Regions from separate parts of the Homo sapiens genome. Here region 1 is linked to region 2. The links come from fine-mapping of genetic effects on gene expression. Tissue or cell type: sun-exposed skin. Region 2 holds a variant in brackets; the other region holds the start of a gene. All regions are shown on one strand. Distances are between the middles of the regions.

Region 1 (4,247 bases), 34 kb before region 2:
AAAACAAACACGCAGTAGTCAGCATAGTGTATGACATAACATGTGCTCAGTAACTATTAAATTTCATTCCTACCATTGTCAGAGGTATTTGAATCACAACAACTCCATCTTGAATAGGGGCTGGGTAAAATAAGGGTGAGACCTACTGGGCTGCATTCTCAGGATGTCTGTCAGTCATTCTAAGTCACAGGATGAGATAGGAGGTGGGCACAAGATACTGATCATAAAGACTTTGCTGATAAAACAGCATGCAGTAAAGAAGCCAGCCAAATCCCACCAAATCCAAGATGGCGAGAAAGGTGGGACGTCTGCTCGTTCTCACTGCTCATTATACACTAATTATAATGCATTAGCATCCTAAAAGACACTCCCACCAGTGCTATGACAGTTTACAGATGCCATGGCAATGTGAAGAAGTTACTCTATATAGTCTAAAAAGGGGAGGAACACTCAGATCTAGGAATGGCCTACCCTCTTCCCAGAAAACTCATGAATAACCCACCCCTTGTTTAGCATATAATCAAGAAATAACTATAACAATCCTTAGTCTACCACCTCCAATGGGGGTGTATGCACCTCCAATTCTTTCTTGGCGAGATCCAGGAGCCCTCTCCTGGGGTCCAGATCAGAACACCTTTCCAGAAACACCATCCCATGTTAAATTATGAATTAAGAACACTGAACATGAAGAATGTTTAATTCAAATTATTGAGTAAACACTTACAAAATTAAAATATAACATTTAATAAAAATAGCAAGATTGAGGAACAAGCACTTCACAAATATTGGTTTCCCAGAATGTCTGAGGAGGTGTATAGAAGTTAAGAATATGTCCTCCAGCCAGAGAGATCTGTGTTCAATCACACTATTTAAGTTACTTAGCTTCTCCAAGCCTCAGTTTCTTAACTCAGATGGAAAATGAGGACAATGTAAGCACCTATTTCACTGGATTGTAAGGAAGAATAAACAAGATAATGAATAGTATTTGGCATATAATCTTTCAGAAAAGTAGTAAAATTGTCATTCCTATAAATCTAACTAATGTCTTTAAAATTCATCTCACAAAATCAGTATCTTTTTATTTTGTACTGAGCTACTTATTTTACCCAAATTGGGGGTTTAAAAAGAAACTCATTACTTATTTTCGAAAGGAAAATTTACTGTCAAGTACAGTAATTTTTTTTTTAAAGCAGCGTTTAAAAAAAAAAAAAGACAAAGCACTGGTCCAGATAGTTGGAAATGTCATTTAGATTTAAGTCTACAGCTTCTTAGGAAAGTTAGGTAGAGATGTATCATACTCCAGCATGATTGTGAGCAGACGAGCAGGATGAGCAAAACTTGCACGAGTAAGAGTGGTAAACACCAGAGAAGGCGCTTTCATGGAAGGGCACCCTAGGTAACCAAGCAAGTGGCAACAATAGTACAGGTGAGTCCTTGGATCCCTTCTCTCTCCACCCCCGGCAGTGGTCCGGACAAGTACTAACCTCTCCTCTCTAGAGCCTTGACTTTATACTAGCTCCACAACCATCAAGCCCCACGATCCGCGAAAGGAATGGTGCTACAGGTAAGGCGGGCGGGGTCGGGATGCCGAGACCTCTTGTCAATTCTTCGCTCGCCCCCAAACGAGGATCACGGCTGCGCGGCTCTCACTCTAACTATCAAGACAGATTCTGATACTAAACAAGGCTAAAACTTTTTGTTTTTTCCTTCTTACAGAAGGCACTACCCTGGACGCCGCTTGCAAACGCCTGAAGAGAAGGCAGGGTGTTCCCACTTTTTCAGAATGGGACCAGGCCCTACGGCCCCAATAGCAGAAGCTTCTCTAACCCAGGACTGCTCCCCTCAATTCCTCCCAATATGCTGACCGACAGCTCGACCTCACCTGGGGGCGGTTCCGCCAGGGGATGGCTTAGGAAAACCTCAGGAAGAGCAGCCCAGCGAGTGACGCCACTGAAACCACAGTCATGGTCTACCTCGTTCAGGCCACCAGTTTGCAGGCGCCTGAGCCGCTGCTCCTCCCGCCTCTCGGTCCTTCCCCGCCGCCCCGGTACCGTCGCAGTCTTACGCGTTGCATGCCGGGAGCGCCTTACCTCCTCTTCTCAGGGACTTCAGTTCCCAGCATGCAGAAGCCTCAGGCAGAACTGCACTCTGGGATTTGAAGTCCTCGTTCCACGCCTTCTCATCATCCTGAACACCGAGCTCTGGGACTCCGGCGGAGAATCTAAACGTAAAGCATCACCCACGGTCGTGAACTGTAGGCTCTCCTGGCATCCGGGATCTTATTCTGGCCTTGGCGGAGTTGGGGATGGTGTCGCCTAGCAGCCGCTGCCGCTTTGGCTTGCTCGGGACCATTTGGCTGGACCCAGAGTCCGCGTGGAACCGCGATAGGGATCTGTCAGGGCCCGCGGCCGGGTCCAGCTTGGTGGTTGCGGTAGTGAGAGGCCTCCGCTGGTTGCCAGGCTTGGTCTAGGTGGGTGGATCCTTGTAAGCAGGATTAGCGAGTCACTCCACGCTCAGGTTCTTTAGCCTGAGGGCCCGTGTGCCACAGCATAGCTACCCCGCCCTTCCAGCCTCGGGTCCCTAATACTGCCTTGCTTCGGTTCCAGTTTCCGCCGCACAACTTCACTCATTCCAAATGTTAATTTCTGCGTTTTTTTTCAGCCCCAATTCTGTTTCTCCAAATCAGGGATGATTGTCGGCCTTCCACAGACCCTCGCGCTTGCCAGGATTAGGGTGTTCGCGCGCATTGTGGGTAGGGGTGTGGAGGAAGGGATCCAGAAATCTTAAGTATTAACTTAGATTAGTGTTAGCAAGGAAGCCGTCACATTTTATTTAGCCGGGACACTCTGACAGTTTGTGCCGACTGCTATTTTTGATCAAGGCTATTTTGCCCACTTGTCTATTTTGTGGCCCAATTGTCTGTTTTGCTAACATCAGAAAGTTATAATGAAATAATCTGCAAAAAATGTAAGGTGCTAGAAAACCAATAATACTGTGTACCTTGAAAATGCTAATATACACCTGTTTTGTTACAGAGGTGGAGCACAGTGAAAGAATTCAAGATGCCACCTAATATAAACTGGAAAGAAATAATGAAAGTTGACCCAGATGACCTGCCCCGTCAAGAAGAACTGGCAGATAATTTATTGATTTCCTTATCCAAGGTGCTTAATTGGTCAATAATAATAGATATATACATTAACTTATGATTAATTTATTAATAAAATATGAATTTATTTTTTTCAGGGACAACTATAATTGTCACAATCTGGAAGTGTTCTTATATTTTGCTTGAAGGTTATAAAATATAAAACAGTTGCTTTTCTGTTTACTTAGGTGGAAGTAAATGAGCTAAAAAGTGAAAAGCAAGAAAATGTGATACACCTTTTCAGAATTACTCAGTCACTAATGAAGGTTTGTATGTAGTAGGTTTTAACTATAGGTTTGGCTATTAGTGGAACTATAAAAATCTGTTCTTATATAAGGTAATCTTTGTGAAAATACCTGGTAATATCTACATCACCACTAAAAAATGCAATATATTTAAATGTGAATTAAGTATTTTAGTGTATAAAACATTGCTAGTTTCTACTTAAAGTTTCTAAAAGGGTGTGTAGGGGAAATAGAATGAGTATGTTGAAAAGTAACATAAGGAAATATATCTTGAGGTCCAAATGACAAATGCAGACAATGACTGCTATAGGGATTTGTTAAGAGGGGAAATGATTTAAGAGATGTCAGAAGACTTCACAAAGGATCAATACTGAGGAGTAGTGTTAGATAAGTGGAAGGCAATGCAGTGGTAAGATAGTAAGGGAATTCTAGAGCTGTTGGTTACCATAAATAAATACTGAGAACAGGAAATATGTTTATTCTTTATATTTGAGGAAACAAGGTGCAGCAAGTTTGTAGCAGACTGTAGAGAAAACAAATCTTGGGTAAGTACTTTGAGATAGGTTGTTGAGGGCCTTAAAGGTGTATTTTATGCTATCAGCAATTGAGAAGGCAGTAAAGGTTTTCGAAACACAATTGATAGGTACAAAAATACACCTTAAGAAGGCAAAACTGAGTATATTATGTAGGACAAACTGAAGGAAATTGGAGCTTTGTAGACATCACATTATAGCGGAGTTTAAACCTGAAATTATGGATTAGAATAATAGCAATTGGAACAGAAAAAAAGTAGTGGAAAGACATTACAAAGGGAGATGTTGCATTACTGGATATAAGACTTGAGGACTTGAGGT
Region 2 (4,247 bases):
ATTGTCGTATTTTTTGAGATAAAATTCATGATTTTTAATCTTTGTATAAGAAATATATCAGAAGTTTGTAGTAGATTAGAGAGTACCAACTGGGAGTCTGAAAAGCTGTCCAAAGTGGCAAAACAGGTACTTAGACTCTCAATCCTAAGGCTGTATAGAGCTATAAACGTGGCAAGACCTTTGGAGTCAGACAGACCCAAACTCAAATGTTGGATCCATGTATATGGAAAGCACCTGACAACAAGCCTAGCATATGTACTTGGTAAAAATGATTGCCAAGTGTAGTGTTAATGAGTTTTTGGATATTGAGTAAGTTATTTAAATTTCAATTTCATCTTTAAAATGAAATAATTGGAAAGGATAATTTGAGTGAGGGTATGAAATTATGTGTTCATAAGAGAGGGTATGTGGCCGAGTGACTAGAGGCGAGTTTATAACTATTCTATCTAATAAAACTTTGTAATCTGGTAATTTGTGTGCTAAAAATAACTTTACCTGTTGTATAGTACTCTTTTTTTATGCCTTAAACTAAAGTGTTCAAAATATCATGGAAAAATGATCTGTGTTGCTTACAGATTTGGTGACTTTTAACTTTCCTATAATGTTGTCAGAATATGAATTTATACTTTCAAATTCAGCATTTATTCTATTGTGTTTTTTTTTGCATTCTTATTTCTAAACCACTTTTCAGGAACTAGAAAATAAAGAAAAAAAGTTAAAGAATTTAGAAGATTCTCTTGAAGATTACAACAGAAAATTTGCTGTAATTCGTCATCAACAAAGTTTGTTGTATAAAGAATACCTAAGGTATAGGTATTAGCAAAACTATAAATATAATTGCAGTATATTCTTGTTAATTGTGAAAGTAACGTAAGAATAATTTATGTTTTGTTCTTCCCTTCTTCTTCTTCCTTTGCAATTGTATTTTTTTTTACTCTGGTAACTACTGTTAGGAACTTATTTATGGAGACAGTGTAGCTTAATGATTACATTAAGCCTGGGATTATCCTGCCTGGGTTTGAGTCATTTAACGTTTGCTTTTTGTAAGAGCTTGAGCAAGTCATCTTACCTATCTGTGTCTCAGTTTCCTTATCTGTAAGTTACTTTGTAAGTAATACCCTTTTCATAGGATTATTGTAAAACGTAAATGAATTATTAGATGAAAATGCTCGGACTAGTGTGTGGCACATATGAACAGTTTGTAAATGTTAGCTGTTGTTAGCATCATTCATCATCATCACAATCATCATTGTTCATATATGTTTATAGGGAACTAACATATTTCTCCTTATTTCTGTCATCTCATCTAAATCAATAGAATGATTTCCTTAATAGGAATTAGAATACCTAATCAAAGGTGATTTAAACACTAAGAATAATTATTATCTGACCTAACCAGAACCACAAAGCTAGTTGTAGGGCAGGTCATATTTGAAGGTTGTTGTTATCGCCTATGATGGTTGTAAAATAGCTGCATGAATTCAAGAAAGATGATGTGCCCATTGAAGAAGAGGAGCATTTTTTTCTACATAGCTTTTATTTTTAAATAAACATTTTTTTCTGGTGATACCTGGCAGACATTGACTCCGATCTCATTTGCTAGAATTGGATCACATGTCCAAGTCTGAACCATTCAGTTGCAAAGAGAATGATACCGCTATACTGGGTTTATGCCAAGAACATTACACATGTTTGTGGAATGCTCATGTGTAGACAACAGTGTCTTACACAACTTCAAAAAAATAATTTATATATAAATATGTTTTAAATTACTTTTTAAATTCACAAGAATTTATGGTATACAACATGGTGTTCTATATATGTATATACTATGCTATACAACATGGTGTTCTATATATGTATATACTATGCTATACAACATGGTGTTCTATATATGTATATACTGTGGAATGGCTAAATCAAGCTACTTAACATATGTATTACCTCGCATACTTTTTTTTTTTTTTCCTTGAGACAGAGTCTTGCTCTGTCACCCAGGCTGGAGTGCAGTGGCGCTATCTTGGCTCACTGCAACCTCTGCCTCCTGGGTCCAAGTTATTTTCTTGCCTCAGCCTCCCAAGTAGCTGAGATTACAGGCATGTGCCACCACGCCTGGCTAATTTTTGTATTTTTGGTAAAGACGGAGTTTTGCCATATTGTCCACGCTAGTCTCAAAA[T/C]TCCTAGCCTCAAGCAATCTGCCCACCTTGGCCTCCCAAAGTGCTGGGATTACAGCATACTTCTTCTTATTTTTTTTTTTTTTTGCACTAAGAACACTTAAAATTTACTCTCTTAGCAATTTTAAAGTATATAATATACTGTTATTAACTTTGGTCACTATTTTAATTAGACTTAAGATGTGTTTGTATTCAAATTATTTTGTAAGCATTTAACACCCAAATTTGAGAGTGGGGTCAGAATGTTGGAATTTGATTTCTAGAATTAGTATAGGGTATTATTTTCCTACTTTTTTTCTGTGTTCAATAAAATGTTTATAAGATTCAGCTTCAATTATATTATAACCCATTTAGTGGTGAATCAGGGAAGAATGAAAATAATTTGATAACTTTGTTGCCTTGCATTTATTTAAAAAATTTTTAATTCTAGGCTAAACCCTTTTTAAATGAAAGTTTAACTTCTTGTGTTTTCAGATACTGAATAGCTATGATACCTCTTGTGTTGAGAAAACTTTAAATTTGCATAATCTGAAGTTATCTTTTCTTATAAACATTTTATTAGGTTTACAGTATTGTCTTTTTGTTTTGTTTTGTTTTTAGTGAAAAGGAGACCTGGAAAACAGAATCTAAAACAATAAAAGAGGAAAAGAGAAAACTTGAGGATCAAGTCCAACAAGATGCTATAAAAGTAAAAGAATATAATGTAAGTAAAACATTTTTAACATTAGTATGCAATATTGTACAAAGTAGGATAGCTAGATTCAACAAGTAATATGGATGTGTCTTTGTGCAGAATTTGCTCAATGCTCTTCAGATGGATTCGGATGAAATGAAAAAAATACTTGCAGAAAATAGTAGGAAAATTACTGTTTTGCAAGTGAATGAAAAATCACTTATAAGGCAATATACAACCTTAGTAGAATTGGAGCGACAACTTAGAAAAGAAAATGAGAAGCAAAAGAATGAATTGTTGTCAATGGAGGCTGAAGTTTGTGAAAAAATTGGGTGTTTGCAAAGATTTAAGGTACATCTGATTCTTATTTTGCTTTTTCTGACTATGAAAAATTTCAAATATGCAGAAGATAGGATGGTATCAATAATGCTCATCACCTGAATTAATAGTTAACATTTATTAACATTTTGTCATAATTGCTTCTTCTGATTTTTGTGGGATGTTTGAATTGCAGACATTCCTCCCCTAAATATTTAATGTACCCTTTTGAAAAAGGCTTTTTTCTTTAACTAACCATAGTAACTTTATTATACCTAACAAAATGACAGTAATTTTCTAATATCGCCTAATACCCTGATTATAGTCACATTTTTTACATTTTTTGATCAAAGAATAAGCATTTGGATGTTACATCTCATAAATCTTTTTAATATAGAATCCCCTTGGTTTTCTTTTTCTCCAAAAAATGTTTGAAGATGTATCTAACTTTTGTGTGTGTGTCATTTTACTTGTTCCTGTGTCCCTTGTATTACTAAAAGTTAGGTCAGAACCCTAAGTTACATTCAGGTTTAAACATTTTTGGCAAGAATACTTCATAAGTAGTGTTCTATACTTTATATTGCATCACTTCAAGAGTATCTGGTTGTTCCATGTTTTGTAATTGATTACTCTGTTAAGGAAAAGACAAGCAGACCAAGTATGGTGGCTCATGCCTATAATTCCAACATTTTGGAAGGCCCAGGCAGGAAAATTTCCTGAGCCCAGACCAGCCTAGGCAATATAGTGAGACTCCGTCTCTACAAAAAATGTTTTTTTTTTTGTTTGTTTGTTTTTAATTAGCTTGGTGTAGTGGCACATGCTTGTAATCCCAGCTACCTGGGACATTGAGGTGGGAGGATCGCTTGAGCCCAGGAAGTTGGGGGCTGCAGTGAGCTGTGATCATGTGCCACTGATCTCCAGCCTATGTGCCTGTATAACAGAGCGAGTCTCTCTCTTAAAAGAAAAAAAGAAGAAGAAGAAGAAGAAAAGATAACCATATACCTCCATTATTAAGCAATTTAGCTAACTGGTGATATTTTGGTACCATACAAATAACAAATTATTTGTCAGTCCTAATGATT

The links. PIP is the estimated chance that this variant, and not a neighbour inherited with it, causes the effect.
Region 1: TMTC3 starts here. The variant in region 2 is fine-mapped to the expression of TMTC3 in sun-exposed skin (GTEx, PIP above 0.99). The same link has a PIP of 0.9 or more in unexposed skin.

The regions. Positions count from the first base shown.
Region 1 is chr12:88,140,123-88,144,369 of GRCh38, reverse strand. TMTC3 (transmembrane O-mannosyltransferase targeting cadherins 3) reads right to left here and starts at 2,063. Exons shown (of 14, transcript NM_181783.4): 1 at 1,883-2,063. CEP290 (centrosomal protein 290) reads left to right here and starts at 2,282. Exons shown (of 54, transcript NM_025114.4): 1 at 2,282-2,470; 2 at 3,036-3,164; 3 at 3,337-3,414. The coding sequence starts at 3,063. RefSeq lists enhancers at 1,693-2,196, 2,003-2,442.
Region 2 is chr12:88,105,626-88,109,872 of GRCh38, reverse strand. It overlaps CEP290 (centrosomal protein 290), which reads left to right. Exons shown (of 54, transcript NM_025114.4): 23 at 692-807; 24 at 2,775-2,877; 25 at 2,968-3,198. Among named protein-coding and RNA genes, the nearest start is that of CEP290, 34 kb to the left of the region's middle. The variant T/C (reference allele first, on the strand shown) is at 2,178.